Linked DNA regions of Homo sapiens: region 2 is linked to region 1. A link means that fine-mapping ties the variant in region 1 to the expression of a gene that starts in the linked region. Tissue or cell type: blood mononuclear cells. Region 1 holds a variant in brackets; the other region holds the start of a gene. All regions are shown on one strand. Distances are between the middles of the regions.

Region 1 (8,189 bases):
ACCCTCAGGCTTTGTTAGATACTTGGATCACAGTATTTACAAATTAGTTTATATAGTTGTAACCACACCCATCTCCTCACTTCTCCCATTAACACTAACTAGACGGCATGTAAACTGGACATGCAGACTGTCTTGCTCTGTATTCCAGAGAGGGTTATATAGTGTATCAGGCACTCAATGTCAAGAACCCATACAGTAATCCATACATTAACATCATCTTACCAAACAGACAAATCACATTTCTCCCACTTCCATGCATTAAACATTCCTTATTTTTATATTTAAATAATTTTGTGTGTATATGCACGTGTTCAAAATATACCCAGCCATCGACATAGGAAAGAAATATGATTACCAAATAAAGTGTACCTTTGGCTGAGATAAAGCAGTGCTGGCTTTAAAGATTTGTTGTATTATCTTCTAAATTTCAGAAATCAGTCAAATATTCCAAATTTTATGTTTTTTTCTTTTACAGTATAATTAATTTTGTCAAACTAGTGGGCATTCCTATTTCAAGGATCAAAGTAATTGCTCAAAGCAAAGGCGTAACAATTTGTGCTTACCATCCCGACAAAGTTTTATTTCCCCTTTCCAACATGCTATGATTCATTCTATTTCTTCTTAGTTGTTCCTTTCTATAGCTTCAGTAGGAAAAGGCAACCAGATTTAGATTCCTTTGCCTTTTAACCTCACAGCATCCCTCCCACAAAAAGGAGGACTACATATTGTACTTTGTTCCATCATAAAGCATCGAGATGAATTATACTAACCTTACTGTATTCCAGGCATCTCCGAGTTCTTTGGAATACTGTTTTTCAAAATGATCCAACACAACTTTGCAAATCTGTTTTGCAAGCTTCCCCTCTGATTTTGCTTTCAGCTATGACGATAAGAAAAAGTTGCTGACACACAGTGATATTACAAATTTACTGAACGTCAACATTAGCAAGGTCTTTTTTTAAGACAAGAACACTTTTTTTGGATAATTACTAGTTCTTGAAATGGAAGCAATACCTTACATGTACCAAAACTGTACATTATCTAATTATGAAAAAGCAAGGTTTTTCCAAATAATTATTTTCCAAATGTGAAGCAAAGGTTAAAACAGAATCTACTGGGGCTGAAGAAACTGTCAAAAGGAACAAAATTAATTTTAAAAAGTCACTGTAGGGGCTAGGCAGGTGGCTCACACCTGTAATCCCAGCACTGTGGGAGGCAGAGGCGGGAGGATCACATGAGGTCTGGAGTTCAAGACCAGGTTGGCCAACACGGGAAACCCGTCTCTACTAAAAATACAAAAATTAGCCGAGAGTAGTGGTGGGCGCCTGTAACCCCACCTACTCAGGGGGCTGAGGTGGGAGAATCGCTTGAACTCAGGAGGTGGAGGTTGCAGTGAGCCGAGATCGCGCCACTGTACTCCAGCTGGCTCATGCTTTGCAGGGACGAGGCGAGAGGATCATTTCCCAGTTCAAGACCAGACTGGAAAACATATCAAGGACGTGTCTCTACAAAAAGTAAAAAAAAAAAAAAAATTAGCCAGGCGTAGTGGCCTGCTCCTGTAGTCCTAGCTACTAGGGAGGCTGAGGCTGGAGGATCGCTTGAACCCAGGAGTTCAAGGTTACAGTGAGCTATGATGGAGCAGCTGCATTCCAGATTGGGTGACAGAGCAAGAACTTGTATCTAAACAAAACTAAAAAGTCACCGGGGATGCTGACATCAAGAAAAATTGGTGAAAGGTATTTGAGAACTCTGTACTATCTTTGCAACGTTATTTTAAAGTGAAAAGTTAATTTAGGGAGAAAAGTCACTCCAATTTCATCGTGAACTTCCTTGCAATTGTTTCATTTATTCATCCAAGAAACGTGTATTCAATGCCTACTATGTAACAGACACTGTTCTAAGCTCCCGGGATACCGCTGTGACACAGAAAACAAATCTCAGCCCTCCAAGAGCTGGAGGGAGTGGGTACTAGAAGTCTGCGAGCTGGACGGAAGGGACTCAGCATTACAGCACTCAGCATTATTTCAGGGCTTGACAGTAAAGCCAAAGAAACGCTGATCTCGCGAGGGGACGAACAAAGGTGATGTTCCCCCATCCCAGCACCCTCCCTCGCCACCTCGGCCGCGTCCAGAAGCGTCTCATTCAGATAGAGGTACCCAGCCGGGCCCCAGGTCTCACCTGGGTCAGCATTGTCCCGCTGAGAGCTTTCAAACAACAGGTGTACGCGAATCAGTATCAAAAAGCCTCCAGGGAACTGAAAAAAACAGTCTGACTTCCGGGATTCGCGGGCATCCACTTTCATTCTCACGTTTCCTCTTCAATTTCTCGCGAGATACTGATTTGCTCGCGCTATAGAATTCTTGTCGAAGAGGCTTAGCTCCCGCGGGAGATTTCGTGCGCAGTTACTTCCGGTAGCTGGTAAAGGCTGATACTTCCCAGGACGCGGAGGTAACGGGCCAGGGCCAAAGCGACTTTCGCTACTTGGATTGGTCGGCGTAGCTTTGGGCGGCCGGACCTTAGAAAGTCACACATCTGCGCGCCTGTGCGGCCCCTGCTTCTGCGGATGCTGAGGTGGGAGGATCGCTTGGGCAGAAGTTTGAGGTTGCAGTGACCCGTGATCGCGCCACTGCACTGCAGCGTGGGCGACAGAGCGAGGCTTTGTCTCAAAAATAAATAAAAAGTCGCATATTGTGCTGAACAGTGTGTATATGCATGGGGCTCAATAAAGGAATGAGTTTTGGGGTTATGTTGTATGATGACTGATTTAAAATATTCTCAAAGCGAAGCTAGTTACTGACTTAATCTACCAAATCTAGTGACCCCTGTTAACCTAGACATTCAGTACCCAAGGATAAAAGGGTGGAATATAATGAAAAAGAAATTAAGTCATGCTTTTCCCCAGACCTGGCCCATGGGGATAATCTCTCCTTTTAATGGAGAGTGTTAAACTGAAGTAGGCATGTAAAGCGGTTACAACAGTGATTAGGAAACAGTAAATGCCCAAATGTTAGCTGCTATTATTTTCACTATTGTGATCATTGTGATTTTTGTCGCGTTGATACCAAATGCGTGAAGACCAAAAGGACCCTCCACTCTAGCCTCCCCAATTCACCTTTACAAGGGAGCAATGTTTAATGGTTCTCCAAGGAAGATGTTTATTACACCTATTTTGACACGAATAGAAGTTTATTTGCTCTTTTGGTGTCATGCTTCAGTAACTATCATTTGTAGCAGCAATCAGCAATTAGAAAAAACCGGTTTGATATGGTCCCTGATAGTTAATAATCATCATTTTGAGTTGTTCCTTGATGCTCATATCAATATACGTACATGCTATAGGTACAAGTCTTATATTCATGTAAAAACATGTCTTTCCTTCTAATCTGATTTGAAGCTTAATATATTTATTTATTTAAACAAGTTTCCAAGTCACCTAAAAAATGCATCTTATTAGAATTTAGATTTGGTACAAAAGACTATGATAATCAGGAATGAAATGATGCCATCTCTTGGATGCCGTCTGTTTAATGTTTGTGGAAAAGTCGGTCTAACCTTTCAGCCTCTGTATTTTTTATAATTTTATAAATTTATATTTTATAAATATTTTATAAATTTATACTTTATAAATATATTTTATATAATTTATTTTTCTATGTTCATTCCAGAATGTTGCAATTAATTAATACAGTGGTATTGTATTTGCAATGTAGGCACGTAAAAAAATTTGAAGAAGGGAATTTCGCGGCATTCTTGGCCTGGCTTCCTGGCGTAGCCAGCAAGTTCGGAGGTGTTAACCGCTGCTGTCATGTTTCTTTTGCTAAACTGCATCGTCGCTGTGTCCCAAAACATGGGCATCGGCAAGAACGGGGACCTGCCCAGGCCGCCGCTCAGGAATGAATTCAGGTATTTCCAGAGAATGACCACAACTTCTTCAGTAGAGGGTAAACAGAATCTGGTGATTATGGGTAGGAAGACCTGGTTCTCCATTCCTGAGAAGAATCGACCTTTAAAGGATAGAATTAATTTAGTTCTCAGCAGAGAACTCAAGGAA[C/G]CTCCACAAGGAGCTCATTTTCTTGCCAGAAGTTTGGATGATGCCTTAAAACTTACTGAACGACCAGAATTAGCAAATAAAGTAGACATGATTTGGATAGTTGGTGGCAGTTCTGTTTATAAGGAAGCCATGAATCACCTAGGCCATCTTAAACTATTTGTGACAAGGATCATGCAGGACTTTGAAAGTGACACGTTTTTTTCAGAAATTGACTTGGAGAAATATAAACTTCTGCCTGAATACCCAGGTGTTCTCTCTGATGTCCAGGAGGGGAAACACATCAAGTACAAATTTGAAGTATGTGAGAAGGATGATTAATATGAAGGTGTTTTCTGGTTTAAGTTGTTCCCCCTCCCTCTGAGAAAAGTATGCATTTTTACATTAGAAAAGGGACTTTTGTTGACTTCAGATCTATGGATAATTATTTCTAAGCAACGTGTTTTTATTCCTCACTAATCTTGGCTATATCAGATACCATTTATGAAACATTCTTGCTATAACTGTCTCTCCAAGACCCCGACTGAGTCCCCAGCACCTGCTACAGTGAGCTGCCATTCCACACCCATCACATGTGGCACTCTTGCCACTCCTTGACATTGTCAGGCTTTTCTAATGTTGGTAGTATTTATTAAAGATGAAGATGCACATACCCTTCAGCTGAGCAGTTTCACTAGTAGGAAATACCAAAAGCTTCGTACATGTATATCCAGAGGTTTGTAGACAAATGTTGCAGCCTTTTTTGTAACAGTGAAAAACTGAAAACAACCTGGAAGTCCAGTGATGGGAAAATGAATATATTTCTGTCTTAGATTGGGGAACCCAAAGCAGATTCCAAGACTGAAATTTAAGTGAAAGCAGTTTATTTGCTAGGTCATACCAGAAGTCATCAATCGAAGTATGGAGAAATGGAACTGAGAAGGTAAAAACCAGTTCAAAATCAGTGAGGAGGTTCTCAATGGTAACGAGCTCCATACTGCTGAGATACAGGGAAACGGAGGGGAGAAAGCTAGAGTATTTAACCCCCACTCCTTGGTTGTCAGCTCCCTGTCCTGTGTGTGGGCAGAACGTACTCCACCTACTCAATAGCAAGTTCCAGGTGTTTGCTGAAAGAAGCTGCTGTAATGTACGGGAACGGTGAATGCCAAACACTTAAAGCAATTCCATGTTTAAGTATGTAAACTCTTCATACTTTTTTTTTTTTTTCTTTTTAAGACAGAATTTCACTCTTGTTGCCCAGGCGGAGTGCAATGGAACAACCTTGGCTCACGGCAACTTCAGCCTTCCCAGGTTCAAGCAATTCTCCTGCCTCAGGCTCCTGGGTGGCTGGGACTACAGGCGCGTGCCACCACGCCAGGCTAATTTTGTATTTTTGGTGGGGACATTCCATGTTGGTCAGGCTAGTCTCGAACTCCTGACCTCAGGTGATCCTCCTGCCTCGGCCTTCAGGGGTGCTGGGATTACAGGCATCAGCCACTGCACTTGGCAGATCTTCATTCTTTTAGTAAAAAGTATAAAGCCACACATGGTTTATTTGAAATATTTTATAATTTAAAAAAGTACAGAAGCAGGAAAACCAATTCTAGGTTCAAGTGAGGGATGATGGTAGTTTGAACCAAAGGATTGCATGTGGTAAGAAATTGTGATTTAAGATATATTTTAAAGTTGGAAGTAGCAGGATATTCTGATGGAGTTTGACTTTGGTTTTGGGCCCACTGAGTTTGAGATGCCTTTGAGAAATGAAAGAAGTAGAGAGAGAATTAAAAACTGGCCAGGAGTGGTGGCTCACGCCTGTGGTCCCAGCACTTTGGGGGGCTGAGGTGGGTGGATCACCTGAGACCAGCTTGGGCAACATGGTGGAGCCCTGTCTCTACAGAAGATACAAAAATTGGCTGGGCATTGTGGCACACACCTGTAGTCTCGTCTACTCACGGGGCTGAGATGGAGGATTCAATTGAGCCCATGAGTTCAAGGCTGCAGTGAGTCGTGATTTTGCCACTGCACTCCTGCCTGGGTGACAGAAGAGACCCTGTCTCAAAAAAGAATCTGAAAACAACGGAACCATGCCTTCAGAATTCTATAAAGTTATTTTCAACTGATAAATCTATATTCAGGCAAAGAATCAAGGGTGAAGGTAAAATAATACATTTTTAGACAAGCAAAGACTCAGGGGTTACATGTACCCTTTCTTGGGAAGCTATCGGAGAAAATACTCCAGCAAAATGAAGGCGTACACAAACCAGAGAATGACGTGGATCCAGCAAATAGTATCCAACACAGGCAATATTCCAGCTATGGAGCTAGCTTTAAAAAGAAACAGTAAAAATACTAATAGATTAGCTGGGTGGGATGGCCCATGCTTGTAGTCCCAGCTACTCAGGAGGCTAAGCAAAAGGATGGCTTGAGCCCAAGAGTTCAGAGCAGCCTGGCCACCATAGTGAGATCCCTTCTCTTAAAAATAATAGGTTATTGCCAGATTTGGGGCATTTGGAAAGAAGTGCATTGAAGATAAAGCAAAAGTAAAAAAAAAAAAAAACAAAAAAAAACAAGGGGGAAGGGTTGGTTAGGCAATAATTAATTCTAGGGCAGGAAGAAGTACAGGATAGGAAGTAAGAGCATCATACGCTGTTTTTCTCAACAATGGGCAATATGTACATAGTCATAATGATGTGGTGACTGACTGCTTAGCCCCTAAATCTGGTAACTACTTTGGGACAATATGGGGGGAAAAGTGAAGATAGTGATGGTGTAAGAGCTAAATCCTCATCTGTCATATCAAGAAATCACTATATAATGTATAACATAATCAAGAAATGACTAAGTAGTTATGTGAAGAAAAGAATGGAACATTGCTAGAAGAGTTAGAAGTCATTGCTCCAGAGAATTAGGAGGGATGGGGCAGGGGACTGTTAGGATGCATTATAAACTGAAGAGGCTTTTAAAGATTACATGTATTAATATATGTATTCACTTGAAAAACTAAAAAAATAGTAATTTTTTAAAACCCATGGAGGTAACTACCAGAAGGAAAAACTAAGAGAATGAAAAGTGCTTTCCTCTGGAAAGAACAAGTCGCAGGACTGTTTTCATTGTAAGACTTTTGGAGCCATTTGATTTTACTTAACCATTTTCATATATTTCTTTAATAAAAATAATTCTATCTTAATAAAAAGTTACACTCATTCATTAAAAAAAGAATTTTAAGACTGTAATAAGAATCATAGTTTATTTCTGTTAGAGAAAGGCAATGTGTTATACTTGGAAAGAGGTCATATTAATTTTATCACATTTTTGGGACTCAGCATCTTTATATTTTCTGATTTTAAATAAACAACTTTGCTTATGAATTTTGTCTGAATCTCTAATAATCTCCTTATAATGCCTAGTTAATTATGCCCTTAGTTTGGGTAGGTTTTCAAATCTTATTAGTTATTTCTTTTTTAGATTACCGCTCATGTCCACTTATCTATAGGTGTCTTAGTATCATTTTATTTATATTTGAGATAACCATGTCAGATGTTAAAACACTTTCTCAATTTTTCTTATAACCATTTGACTTTAAGTGTGAAGGTATTTTAAAATTTTTTTTGTGCATTGTAAATTGAGTTTATTGATTCCACTGCTTTCAGGCTTATACATTTTTTCCCCGAGTGAAGCCACTTCTGTTTCTCCCCTTACCTTTTCATAGTTTGATCTTTTATGTTTAACCTCTTAATCTATCTAGAATCAATATATGTGTATCATGAGAATGTTAATGGATTTTACTCCCCATCCGCACCCCAAATAGCTACCAAAGAACAAACAATTCTACATTGAGTTTTAGGAATAAAAACTGTTAGCAGCAAACTTGAATTAAACCACTGCAGACATAAGACATTGAGCTGACACAAATAACATAAATCACATTAGTTTGTTTTTTGTGCTTTTTTTAATGTTAGCGTTAAAGAACCAAGCAGCTTAATAAGGACGTACCTCTAGGCAGGAAACAAATTTTTACATATCTAAGCAATTTTATTATAAGGTCAGTTGGTCTTAAGAAGTATTTCAGAGTAATTTATGGAATAACTCCTAAACTATGTTTTATGAATTTTCATATTTATATAAAATGTGTCAAAACCCTTCATGTTCATATAGAGGTTTA
Region 2 (8,189 bases), 32 kb after region 1:
TCTTTAAGAAATCTCCATACTGGCCGGGCACGGTGGCTTACGCCTGTAATCCCAGCACTTTGGGAGGCCGAGGCGGGCGGATCACAAGGTCAGGAGATCGAGACCATCCTGGCTAACACGGTGAAACCCCATCTCTACTAAAAATACAAAAAACTAGCCGGGCGTGGTGGCAGGCGCCTGTAGTCCCAGCTACTCGGGAGGCTGAGGCAGGAGAAGGGCATGAACCCGGGAGGCAGAGCTTGCAGTGAGCCGAGATCGCGCCACTACACTTCAGCCTGGGCAACACAGCGAGACTCCGTCTCAAAAGAAAAAAAAAAAAGAAATCTCCATACTGTTTTCCATAGTGATTGTACTAATTTACATTCCAAGAGTGTATAAACATTCCTTTTGCTACACAATCTCGCAGACATCTGCTATGTTTTAACTTTTCAGTAACAGCTAAAAATTCTGACTGGTGTGAGATGGTATTTCATTGTGGTTTTAATCTGCATTTCTCTGATTAGGCATATTGAGCATTTTTTTCATATGCTTGTTGGCCATCTGTATGTCTTCTTTTGAAAAATGACTATTCATGTCTTTTGCACATTTTTAATGGGGTTGTTTTTTGTTGTTGATTTCCTTGTAAGTTTTGGTTATTAGTCTCCTATAGGATAAAGAGGTCGCAAATATTTTCCCTCATTCTGCAGGCTGTTTGCTCCATTGATTACTTCTTTTGCTGTGCAGAAGTTTTTACTTAATAATTAAGTCCCATTTGTCTATTTCTGGTTTTGTTGCTTTTGCTTTTGAGGTCTTAGTCATGAATTATTTGCCTAGACCAATGTCCAGAAGAGTTTCATCAGTTTTCTTCCAGTATTTTTCAGGTCTTACATTAAGTCTTTAATGCACCCTGAGTTAATTTTTGTATATGGTGAGAGACAGGGTTCCAGTTTCATTCTTCTGCATATGGCAATTGAATTTTCCTAGCATCGCTGTACCCATCATCTGGGTTCTCTATTCTTTTCCATTGATCTATTCATCTATTTCTATACCAGTACCATGCTACTTTGGTTACAATAACCTTGTAGTATAATTTAAGGTCAGATAATATGATGCCTCCAGCTTTGTTCTTTTTGCTTAGGACTGCTTTGGCTATTCAGGCTTTTTGGTACTTTTTCTTATTTTGAGAGGCATCATTATGAACTTATGGATTTAAAAATGTATTTGATGTGTTTCAATTTGTTGCAGTTATTGCTCTTTTTAAGGCTCAAAGGTACCCATTTTGAGGCAGCAGGAGTCCCCTTCAGGTTGGCTCTTGGACCCTTTTGGTACAACTCCAACAGTCTTTGATAGCTTCTTTATGTTCTACTATGAAACAAGGTTCCAGACTTGCAATCATCCATTTCCCCAAGAAGCCTTGATCTTTTCAGTGGAAAATGGCATTTTAAAGACTAAAACCTAGGAGTTATAGATAAACATTTGCTATTGACTTACTACTGCTTCTAGGCCCTTTCAGTGCACAAAGCTAGGAAATAGTTTTATTCTAGAAAAAAAAAAAATCTAACCATGTATTCGTGTTGATTTTTTCATTTCAAATCAACTACCAAGTTTTACTTAGCTTCTTAAATCTTGTTTTTGTTTATTTCTTTGAGACAGGGTCTCACTCTGTTGCCCAGGCTTAAGTGCAGAGGTGTGACAACAGCTCACTACAGCCTCTACCTCCCAGGCTTGAGCCATCCTCCCACCTCAGCCTCTCAAGTAGCTGGGACTACAGGCGCATACCACTATGCCCAGCTAGTGTTCGAACGTTCTTTTTTTAAAAAATTATTTTAGCAGAGATGGGGTTTCACTATGTTCCCCAGGCTGGTCTCAAACTCCTAGGCTCAATCCTCCTGCCTCAGCCTCCTAAAGTACTGGATTACAGGCATGAGCCACTGTGCCCAGCCTTAGATCTTATTTGTATCTCTTTTTACTTATGCTGAAAACTACAGTTTCTAATGACATTATTTGTTTTATCCAACTATATATAGGAATTTTAACATAATAATATCAATATGATTACTAAATATTAAGACTACTAAGTGCAGGTTAACATATCTTTGTGGTTACGTATCTTTGTCTCTACGCTATATCCCACTAGAGATGCAGAGTCAATAATACTGTTTTAAAATTACTTAAAATAGTACTTCTCTGTGTGGTTTTGCCATCACCTAGATATATACCTAGGTTCATTTCTTTCTAGGTGCTTTTGCATTTTAGAGATCGTTTGTGTATTTGTTTTAAGATTTAATTTCTAAAATATTTATATCGGCTGGACGTGGTGGCTCACACCTGTAATCTCAGCACTCTGGGAGGCCAATGTGGGTGGATCATTTGTCAGGGGTTCAAGACCAGCTTTGCCAACATGGTGAAACCCTGTCTTTACTAAAAAAAAAAAAAAAAAAAAATGAGCCAGGCGTGGTGGCGTGCACCTGTAATACCAGCTACTCGGGAGGCTGAGGCATGAGAATCGCTTGAACCCAGGAGGCAGAGGTTGCAGTGAGCCGAGATCGCGCCACTGCACTCCAGGCTGGGTGACAGAGTGAGACCCTGTCTCAAAAAATAAAAATAAAAAAATATTTATATGGTTCTAAATTCAGAACTATAAAAACAAGGTACAATCAGAAAGGAACTATTTGCTATCTCTCTGCCTTTTCCTTCCCTTCCCTTATAGGTAACCATTTTCATTCGTGTTTAGTTCATCCTCCCATTATTTCTTTTTGAAAATATAAACAAGCGTATGGAGAAAATGGTATTTCAAGGACCATAATTTGGGCACTGTGAATATTCAATGCTATTGACTGGTTTATGTATTTGTGTATATATACAATATTTATATCTACCCTTCCTTTCTTCCTAAAACTTAGCATATTATATATATTCTTCTGCAGCATGCTTGTTTTAACTGAACAGTAAATTTTGAAGTACCCTGAAGCAGTATAATAAAATCTTCACTATTTTCTATAATTGCAAAATGCTCCCCTTTGAATGTTCCATCATTTATTCAGCCAGTTCTACGCTGAAGGACTTTTGTGTTTCCAGTGTTTTGTTTTTACAAAGAGTGCTATAAAAAGTAGGTGTGTAAAGGAGTCATTTCTTATTTTGAGTACAGATTCCAGGAAGTAGAACTGTTAAAACAAAGAATAAATATAAATGTGATTGGCCGGGCATGGTGGTTCACATCTGTAATCCCAGAACTTTGGGAGGCTGAGGCAGGTGGATCACCTGAGGTCAGGAGTTCGAGACCAGCCTGGCAAACATGGTGAAACCCCATTTCTACAAAAAAATTAGCTGGGCGTGGTGGCAGGCAACTGTAATCCCAGCTACTTATGGGGCTCAGGCAGCAGAATTGCTTGAACCCGGGAGACGGAGGTTGCAGTGAGCCAAGATCGTGCCACTGCACTCCAGCCTGGGCTACAAGAGCAAGACTCCTTCTCAAAAAAAAAAAAAAATAAAAAAAAAATAAATATATATATATATATATATATATATATATATATGATTTTGATAGATACAGCAATTTCCTTCTTCTTGCCCTCAAATAGTAACAAGTCAGGTAGAAAAAATGGGTCTGAAATTTGGTAGTACAAGAGAAATTTTCATTTTTAATTCTTCCTATAAACATTTCCCTCTGGTATAAATTAATTTTGAGTTGTTATATTGACAAAATAAATGATTTAACATATATTGCTGGATAACTTTAGTTCTATATAAAATTTATTTTAAAATAAAAACAGCAGGCATAATAAAAAGTAAAAAAAATTAAAAGTAACGTGGGATGAATGGTTTACAGACATGAGCTCTTTCCTGGATGTTCTCCTTCTGAAATTCTATGATTTTGTGAGCTAAGCTCTTTTGGGATTTCCTAAAATAGGACAGATTTCAACCATTTTAAAGTAAATGGAACAAAAAAAGCTTTTACACCAAGCTTCTTTTCATTCCTATTTAATTCCATATTTTTAGTAAGTTTTGATATCTATAGAAAAGAAAGTAACCTTTGTTTAAATACAAACCCATTTTCTTGGAATAATATATTACATATACAATGTAGGACTAAATTTGCAGATCCAGTGCCAAATACTCTACGTAGGCAGTTTAACGAGGACTTCCTGTTACCGACTAGCTCCAATGAAAATGATCTTCCTTTAATCTAAAGAATAGGCGTCTAACAGGCAGAACCAGATTCTCCAGGTGTGAAGTAAGCAATCTATTTTCACTTGCTATTAACAGCAAACGTACAACTTTATCTCTTATTTGACTTCATTATTTGGCTTTCAAATTAACAACATGAAAACTATACAGAAATTAGTCTGTGCCCTATAAGACAGAGATTTAGATAATTTGTTCAAAACATGAGATGATATTCAGATATTCTCTCAAAGGCAGGACTCCAACACCGCAGGTGGAAAACCAACAAAAGGAAGAAAACAGAAAGGTAAATAATGACTCTTTTCTGTACTTTTTAATATGAGGTATCCATAGACTGACATCTGGTTACACTGTTACATTTAAAAATCACTCAACAAATAATGAGGGTTACTTGTTTTGCTCAGATTTGGACCGGGGTACCAGTAGCTGATTTGTTCACATATATTACTGACATGCTGACTGGGATCTGGGTATAAAGCTCTTGAAAATAGACTACGATAATAAAAATCAACTTTAGAGGAAAGAAAAAATTTTTAAGTCTTTTAAAAAGTAAGCTCTCATTTAAAAAATACTAGAAAGTCAGATGTAAAAACAGATCTAAAATTATTTCTTTTATAGACAGACTATGAATGTGCTTACTTTAGAGAACATTTTTATATTTCACTCTGAAAAGCAGCTTATACCCAAATTTGACACATACGTATAACCTTAAAAATCTGAAATAATTTGCTATAATGGTCTTAATTGCTTCATTGTTGTTTACTAGAATCTTCTAAAATTGAAAAAATGAGAAAATAATCTTGTGAAAGGGCTACCAGAAAATATCGAAGTACTCACTAACCTTTATAATATTTCAACTAGTACATTAAAAATACTTGTTATACCATTTAACGTAAGTGTTAGCATTTAATTGATAGTTTGAAAAATTTAAATCAGCATCATTTAAATACAACATATGTAGATAGGTTAGATACTTTCAAAGTTATAATTGTTACTATGTTAGAATTTAATAAATATTCCATTTCAAATCAAAATAATAATGACTTTTATATGTATTTTAAAGGTGGACTTGAGAATTGGCCACGTAATACCTCGAACACATTATCTTCACAGCTATGCAGTTTTAAATGTAATATAAAAATCATTTTATGTATGTACAGCTTACTTGAATCAGATAAAAGTTCAAAAATTATACATCATATTTAAACAAAAATGATCTTAATGTTGTTATACAAGTTAATTCAATAAGTTATTTAGACTAAATAAAATGTAGAAAAAAGCATTGAAAGTTTACATTGCAAAAAAAGTCAGATACTTCAAAATTAGACAATATATGCAATTTGCAATTTTTTTTTAGTTTTTAGAAACTACTATTTGGCCCTCACTTTAGTAGCCAAAGAGGTTAATATATTACAATAAGATCCTCTGCTTTCACTTGCACTAGAAAAATGTGGCAAGTTGACTTCATATACAAAAGCAACAGAATATTCTGTTTTCTCTTGGGTAAAAACTGGTCATATTTCTTGAAATGTTTTATTTAATCATTACAGTAACTATGAAAAGAAATGGCCTACTTTAAAAAAATCTATAAATACACTAAGTATCTATCCCAGGGCATATTTCTAAAAGTACAAGGTAATTTTTACTCATGTTTCTGTTTCTAGGGATTTTCAGTGTCTGTAATAGGGCAGAGAACCTTTTATTTGAGTCGCACCAGTTTACTTTTCTATTTCCCAGAACAAGTTGTCCAAGTTGATTATCATACATACGAGTTAGTGTTCTTTCTTTTTTAAATATCATGTTTAAGCTCACAGATACAGTTCTTGCTAGTAAAATTCAAAACTGTATAGCAATGCTGCAAGTTAAACATAATAAAAGATGATTCATATTTGTATATAACTCTTCCAACATAATAAATTTAAGGTACATAACAGACTGCATAAAATAGTAATTTCATCAATTTCACCTAGTCTAAGCAATTAAATGATTTCACAACTATGAGCTTCATATTTTATGCTTATATGAATCCTGTCCTTGCATGTTTTAAATTCTAACATGCTTATTTGTCTCATTTTGCCTAACATTCTAATTCATGAAGATATAAGATCAATAAATTGGATAGTTATACATATAGTTATGAGTATGCAACTACTAGAAAATGTAATTTATATACAGCATATAAACATATTTGAGTACCTATCAAGTCAATTTCTACACAGATGAACAAGGATTTAGGGAAACATTCTCAATTATGTTAATTCTATAAAGATAAGCAACTGTGACTTTCAGTCAAAATGCACAGATACAGAAGTTACTCCCTCTTTCTCTAAACATACAGAATTTGATGTAATCGTAAGTTTAAAAAAGACAAATTTTAAAACAACATCACTAAATTTTAGAGTAAAAAAGCGAAGTTTTCTCCTGGCTCACACGGTGAAACCCCATCTCTACTAAAAATATAAAAAGTTAGTCGGGTGTGGTGGCGGGCGCCTGTAGTCCCAGCTACTCTGGAGGCTGAGGCAGGAGAATGGCGTGAACCCGGAAGGCGGAGCTTGCAGTGAGCCGAGATGGTGCCACTGCACTCCAGCCTGGGCGACAGAGAGAGACTCCGTCTCAAAAAAAAAAAAAAAAGAGAAGTTTTCAGGTGCCAGAAATGATGAGGAAACATACTTAAAGCCAAAGTGAAGAGTAGTAATTAAAGCTAATTACACTGGGCAAATACTTTACCTTAAAGCTGAGGTTTAGAGTTTGTTGCATTATAGGGAACTAAAACTGAGTTTCCTAGATGAAACAGTTAACTAGGAATAATACAACATAATCTGTATACAAAGACAGGAATAACTCTGTTGACTTGCCCAGGATTATAGCAGGAAGTGAGATATCCACTTAGGCTATAAAAATCACTAGAGAAAAATTAGGCCTACATAATACTACCTGGGCTACAAGGGGCAAACTCCATGGGGCGTTGGTAGTGACAATCAAAAAAATAGCCTCAATGTATCCATAATTGATCAGGACACTCAGAGCATTCTTGTATAACTCCCCAATGAAGCTAGGCTACTGACGAATTTCACTAAATACACTTGCCCACATTTAACAGAGTGGTCACCAGTCCGTGGCCACAGCAAACATAGGAATTTACTCCTAAGAAACTAGAAATAACCTAATAATGTAAAGGATCTTTCACATAAATATTCTCTAAATGTTCAAAAGAAATACAGGCATAGGATCCATAAACCAAGACAAACACAGTATAACCTTTATAGCTCACTTTAAACATCGTTTACATAATACGCATTGCCATGATGTATAACACTGAAAGGAAACCTGATTCTATTTCCATGTTTTGCCTTTAATATCAATAATGTATACAGATATTAAAAAAAGGATATTTTGTTTTTTGCTTGTAAATTCATTAAGATTAATAAAAAGGACATATTAATATATTTTAAAGGGCTCCTTAAAGTACCTTTTATTCAAATATAAAAGTGTGGTGCATGTTCAGGGAATGATATTACATGGATAAAAATCCAGGAAAAAAACAACCTTTATAGAGGTCAGACTCAAATATCCTGCTTTCCAAAATCAGTGGCAGTAAAATGCACCTTCTCAAAGGCACTTCACAGGAAAATTCACCTTCCCAGAGGCCTGTGTACACTGTGCTCCAATAGCAATTTGAAATAGTCTATTTCTTAAAAATTTTTAAACTATGATGCTTTAGAAAAAGGCTTTTGATTACTTTATTTCTAATTTTTTTAAAAAAGAGGCTGGGTGCACTAGCTCATGCCTATAATCCCAGCACTTTGGGAGGCGGAGGTGGGAAGATTGCTTGAGCCCAGGAGTTAGAGATCAGCCTGAGCAACACAGCAAGACCTCATCTTTACAAAAAATTTTAAAAAATCAGCCAAGCACAGTGGCATGCAACTGTAGTCCCAGCTACTCGGGAGGCTGAGGGAGAAGGATCACTTGAGCCTGGGAGGTAGAGGCTGCAGTGAGCCGCAATTGAGCCACTATACTCTAGCCTG

Evidence for each region. PIP is the estimated chance that this variant, and not a neighbour inherited with it, causes the effect.
Region 2: it holds the start of STX19, and the variant in region 1 is fine-mapped to the expression of STX19 in blood mononuclear cells (TOPMed, PIP 0.99).

The regions. Positions count from the first base shown.
Region 1 is chr3:94,057,128-94,065,316 of GRCh38, reverse strand. It overlaps DHFR2 (dihydrofolate reductase 2), which reads left to right and starts at 2,401. Exons shown (of 2, transcript NM_176815.5): 1 at 2,401-2,571; 2 at 3,711-7,395. The coding sequence starts at 3,806. The coding sequence ends at 4,369. It overlaps NSUN3 (NOP2/Sun RNA methyltransferase 3), which reads right to left and starts at 2,256. Exons shown (of 6, transcript NM_022072.5): 1 at 2,179-2,256; 2 at 771-880. The coding sequence starts at 2,190. RefSeq lists an enhancer at 2,123-2,362. The variant C/G (reference allele first, on the strand shown) is at 4,052.
Region 2 is chr3:94,024,628-94,032,816 of GRCh38, reverse strand. STX19 (syntaxin 19) reads left to right here and starts at 4,220. Exons shown (of 2, transcript NM_001001850.3): 1 at 4,220-4,450. All of the region lies in intron 3 of ARL13B (ARF like GTPase 13B), which reads right to left.